Regions from separate parts of the Homo sapiens genome. Here region 1 is linked to region 2. Evidence: fine-mapped expression QTL. A gene starts in region 2. The other region holds a variant in brackets. All regions are shown on one strand. Distances are from middle to middle. Region 1 has its middle 41 kb from the start of LMTK2. Region 2 holds the start of LMTK2 (lemur tyrosine kinase 2).

Evidence for each region.
Region 1: its variant is fine-mapped to the expression of LMTK2 in nasal epithelium (TOPMed, PIP above 0.99).

Annotation. Positions count from the first base shown.
Region 1 is chr7:98,064,316-98,067,225 of GRCh38, reverse strand. No RefSeq gene overlaps it. Among named protein-coding and RNA genes, the nearest start is that of LMTK2, 41 kb to the left of the region's middle. The variant A/T (reference allele first, on the strand shown) is at 1,680.
Region 2 is chr7:98,105,495-98,108,404 of GRCh38, reverse strand. LMTK2 (lemur tyrosine kinase 2) reads right to left here and starts at 1,543. Exons shown (of 14, transcript NM_014916.4): 1 at 1,125-1,543. The coding sequence starts at 1,227.

The DNA of each region.
Region 1 (2,910 bases), 41 kb after region 2:
TCCCAGCATGTTGGGAAGCTGAGACAAGAGGATCACTTGAGCCCAGGAGTTCGAGAGCAGCCTGGGCAACATAGCAAGACCCCATCTCTACAAAAAATCCAAAATATTCACCAGGTGTGGTAGTGCACACCTGTGGTCTCAGCTACTTGGGAAGCTGAGGTGGGAGGATCACTTGAGCCTAGGAGTTGAGGCTGCTGTGAGCCGTGATTGGGCCACTGTACTCCAACCTGGGCAACAGAGTGAGACCCCCCGTCTCCAAAAAAAAAAAAAAAAAACAAAAAAGAAAGAGAGGCCAGGCATGGTGGCTCATGCCTGTAATCACAGCACTTTGGGAGGCTGAGGCAGGCAGATCACAAGGTCAGGAGATCGAGACCATCCTGGCTAACACGGTGAAACCCCATCTCTACTAAAAATACCAAAAATTAGCCGGGCGTGGTGGTGGGCGCCTGTAGTCCCAGCTACTCGGGAGGCTGAGGCAGGAGAATGGCATGAACCTGGGAGGCGGAGCTTGCAGTGAGCCGAGATTGCACCCACTGCACTCCAGCCTAGGCGACAGATTGGGACTCCATCTCAAAACAAAACAAAAGAAGAGACCACAGATCATGGAGTGGTTCTGACCAGTCTACAGATGCTGTACACTGAGCGCCTTCGTGTCCTCTGCTTCACCTTTTGATGTGTAGGGCTTCATTGTGACACATTTAAATGTTAAGTCTCTGCCCAAAGTGAACACAGGATGCATATAACATGCTGTTTGCTGATGAGGCATATGTATGTTCTCTCTTCATGAATATTCATAGCTCCTCCCATAACCTGTTCAATATGTATAGTCACCTGTTGAATATGTATAGTTGAATATTTATAGTTCCGTATAAATTCCTGTCTCCTTCTTTCCTCCCTCCACGTACCTGCTTCTGGCTTCTCCCTGAGGCTACGCTTCCCAGCCTGTGGGATGGCATCCTGTAGGCTGCAACCCTTTGTAAGAAATAAAGCTCTCCTTTCCAAATTTGTGAACCTCATAATTCTTCAGTTGACATTTTGTGTAATTTTTTTCATCATTTTCTCAATTTTGGGAGGGGGACTGATTGTATACAAGGCTAGGCAAAAAGAAGAACCACACGGAAAGCATTATGAAAAATGCTCTGTTGCTGAGAATGGCTCCCTTGGTTCTGTCCTCGCTCTACACCAACATCTTCCAGGTTACACATCCTTCCAAAGGGCAACAAGGCTCTAATGTGCTACCAAATGTACTTGGACCATCACTGGCACGCTTTTCTTAAAATGTTTTTAGACCGGGCAAGGTGGCTCATGCCTGTAATCCCAGTGCTTTGGAAGGCTGAGGTGGGAGGATTGCTTGAGCTCTGGAGTTCAAGATCAGCCTGGGCAACATAACAAGATCCTGTCTCTATAAGCATTTTTAAAAATTAGCCAGCTGTGGTGGTGCTTACCTGTAGTCCCAGCTACTCAGGAGGCTGAGGCAGGAGGATCACATGAGCCTAGGAGTTCCGGGGTGCAATGAGCCATAGCTTACCACACCACTGCACTCCAGCCTGGGTGACAGAGTGAGACCCTACCTCTAAAAATTAAAAAATTTAATTTAATTAAAATTTAATTCAAATTTAATTTAATTCAAATTTAATTCAAATTTAATTTAAATTTAATTAAATTAAAATTTAATTTAA[A/T]TTTAATTAAATTAAAATTTAATTAAAAATTAAAAAAATAAAAAAATTAATAAAATATTTTTAATTTCAGGGATGCCGATATTAAATATAAATGTTATAAATAGCACTCAAAAATGCTTCATTGAGGCCAAGCACGGTGACTCATGCCTGTAATCCCAGCACTTTGGGAGGCCAAGGCGGGCGGATCACTTGAGGCCAGGAGTTTGAGACCAGCCTGGCTAACGTGATGAAACCCCCTCTCTACTAAAAATACAAAAAAGTTAGCCAGGCATGGTAGCAGGCACCTGTAATCCCAGCTACTCAGGAGGCTGAGGCAGGAGAATCACTTGAACCCGGGAGGCAGAGGTTGCAGTGAACCAAGATCTCGCCATTGCCCTCCAGCCTGGGCAACAGAGCAAGACTCTGTCTCAAAACAAAACAAAACAAAAAACAAGAGCTGGATTTTTCTCCAACATCTCATCGCAGAGCCTTTGCATTTGCTGTTGCCTCTGCCCGAACACCCTTCCCCGCATGCTGACATCTGCGTGCCTGGCTTCTTCATTTTATTTGGGTATTTACTCAAATGTCACCTGCTCGGTGAAGCCTTCTCTGACCACCCTCTACTTGTAGCCTTTTTCCCACACTCTATATTTACCTCTCCCCACCATTTCATTTTTTATTGCACTTCTTTTTTTTTTTTTTTTTTTTTTTTTGAGACAGTCTCCCTCTGTCACCCAGGCTGGAGTTCAGTGGCACAATCACGGCTCACTGCAACCTCCGCCTCCCAAGTTCAAGCAATTCTCCTGCCTCAGCCTCCCGAGTAGCTGGGATTACAGGCATGTACCACCACGCCCGGCTAATTTTTGTATTTTTAGTAGAGACAAGGTTTCACCATGTTAGCCAGACTGGTCTCGAACTCCTGACCTCAAATGATCCACCCTCCTTGGCCTCTCAAAGTGCTGGGATTACAGGGATGAGCCACCATGCCCAGCCTCTCTGTTGCACTTCTTAACCCCTGACTTTGATCATTCTTGGTTTTGGTCTGTCTCCCTTCATTAGAACATAAGTTCTGGAGGCATAGGGGATTTTTCCTATGTTGATTATCTTGAAACTCAAGAGCCTGGAACAGTGCCTGGCACATAGTAGGCACACAATAAATAATTTTCAACTGCCACTGGCCTTTTTTCTGAGATGGGGGGTCTTGTTCTATTGCCCAGGCTGGTATGCAGTGGCACAATCATGGCTCACTGCA
Region 2 (2,910 bases):
AAAAATATGTCTTTACTGGAGACAGTACATCCACATTCTGTACCCAATTAACATTATTCCAAAATAACTCTTGACCTCGAGAGTATTCCAAAACAGTTACAAGACTTAAAAAAAATCATACAACTAGGGGTATCTAAGACCTGGCTTTGGGGCTCTGCCTACAACGAAGCTGTGTCACCCTGGGTAGGTCATTTGACCCAACATGCCCAGTATCTCCTACTACGTAAAGAAGAAATTGGTCTAAATTTTCTTTAAGGTCTCTTCTAACTCTAACATTCTATGAATGTATGAAATTTCAATCTTTCCCCATTTCAAAGGTAATGGCGGCAGTCAATAACGCCAAGTTAGCCTAGATTTTTTTTTCCTTTTTAGAAAAATGACCCAACTTGGGATGTTTTCTTGGGTTGAAGTTTTATTTAGGAAAATAAACCCCAAATAAAAACGATGTTGAGAAAATGGGCGGGGGGGGAGAAAAGAAAATCATACACTGACGTTAGCTAAAATAGAAACTTCCATCACCCTTAAGCCAGTTTGTCAATAGTTATTCAACGCCTGCTACTCTAATCACTGGCTTCCTAAAATAGAAATATTTATAGTTGTTTCCTTCTCATCCCCGGAGATACATTCCGAATAAAAAGCACAGCGTCTAAAATCAATTTACAACTTCAGAATAAGTTGCAAGGAGCGAAAACAAACTCCGCACAGCTCGCCAAGTCATTTGCATTTAAGTATGATTAGGGCTAAGAAACGGTTCTTATGAGATGCGAAAAAAAAGCACAAGAGGCAGGTGACATCTGGAAAGGGAAGCTGAACTGCCAGGAAGCGATATAAGCTGAGGATCTTAAGGCAACAGGTCCAGGGCCGGCACCGCAGCCTATCCCGGGAGGGGTCGGTGGCTGCTACCTCGCCCGCCGCCCTCCCCAGCCCCAACGACGTCGCCTCGCTCCCGCCCCCCCAAATCCCACGCCCCTGCGGCAGAAATCTCCCTAATCACTCGCCTCCCTGGGCTTCCCGCCCCCGGCAGGCCCTCCGATTCCTCGGCGCCGAGGCCGGCCCGGCCCTGCCGCCCCCTCCCCTCCACGCCGAAGACCCCGCAGCCCCGTCCCCGCCGCGGGCCCGCTCACCTGCACCTGTTTGCGGAAGTGGCGCGGCCCCAGCACTGCCGGCGATCAGGAGGACCAGCAGCAGCAGCAGCAGCCTCCGCCGCAACGCCGGCGGCCCCGGCATCTCGCCCACGGCGCGGCTCCGGGGCCGGCCCTCGAGTCGCCTTCCGTCCGTCCGTCCGTTCGCCCGTCAGTCGATCCTGCCTCCCTCCGCTGCCTCAGTGGCACCCGCGCCGGTTGCTCCCGAGCACACGTTGCTTCTGCCAAACCTCGGTCCGGCTCCCGGTCCGCACCTGCCGCTCCAGTCGCAGAAACACCATCCTTCCCGCCCGCCTGCGCCGCCGCCGCCGCCTCTCAACAGCAGCAACGCCAGCAGCCCTGCGGAGCGGCGGGCCTGGGAAGCCGCGCTCCCGCCGCCATGATGGGCTGCGTCATGTGACGTAGCGCGGGGGCGGGATGTCGTGATGGACAGGGCGGCCAGCCACTCGTCAGTCCACACCGGCCCAGGAGGCCCCGCCCATCATCCTGAAGGAGTGAGCGGTGGCGGCCGGTGCGCCCCCTGCAGACGGAGGAGTGCGTGGGCAGCAGGTAACACCAACAATTATTTTAAATTGAAAAATACAGGAAAATGTAAAGAAGACCATGACAATCATCCTGATATTTTTTTCTCGGTGTTTTATAACATGCAAAAATAGGCCTGTCTTGTCTTCTGCCTTTTTTTTTTTTTTACTTGTCAGAGCTGTTTTAGGCTCTTCTCCTTAAGTTGACCTACACATCCTCTCAGCCATCAAACAGCTTTGGGCTTTTCACTTGAATTGATCAAGAGAATGCCTCTCTCGGCATCACCCACTGACTCACCTCCTGAGCTCAAGCTGTTGCCTCTTGTCCACCTGGCAGACACTCTTCCTTTCATCTGTCGAGACTCACCTGACATATGACTTCATCTATGACTCTCTAGGAGAAATGACTGTCATCTCCTTAGTGCCCCGCCCTGGCCCTGTGTGGACTGCTATCCTAGCTGCAGTATCCTATTGACCCGTGACTGTAAGCTCCCTGAGGACAGCAACTGTGTCTGATTCAGCTGGTGGGAAATCCCTGGTGCAGGACCTGGGTCGGAGCAGGTGTTCTCTAAAGCAATGGTGCATGGCCCTGGTCCCAGGTACCAGGGCAGAGCAGCTCCCAGGGGTGGCCTTCTCCCCACCAAGAGGTGAGGTGAGAACACAGTCCTGCAGAGAGGATAGAGAAAGCACTCTCCAGACACAAGTAATATAGTGGTCAGAGGCATGGGGGTTGGGAAAATGCTAAGCTTTTCTGGAGAGGCGCTATGGTTCAGTGTGTGCATGAGAGGAGCTGATTTCAATCTTATCAGATGAGACTTTGCCACCTGGCAACAGTGTAACCTCCCCAATTCTCCAAACTCCCCAAATGTCCATCCTAAATGCCAGCTGTCGATGATGTTAACACAGCACTGGACACACAGATGATGCCCAGGGAATATTTGTTGGATGATTGAGGCAAGCCAATAAATATCTAAGGAGACAAATACCTGGAACGAGAAACATTGAATTTAAAAGTCCATGGCTTGGCTGGGCACGGTGGCTCACACCTGTAATCTCAGCACTTTGGGAGGCCAAGGTGGGTGAATCACTTCAGACCAGGAGTTCAAGACCAGCCTGGCCAACATGGTCATACCCCATCTCTACTAAAAATACAAAAAGTATTAGCCAGACACGGTGACGCATGCCTGTAATCCCAGCTGCTTGGGAGGCTGAGGCAGGAAAATTGCTCGAACCCAGGAGGCGGAGGT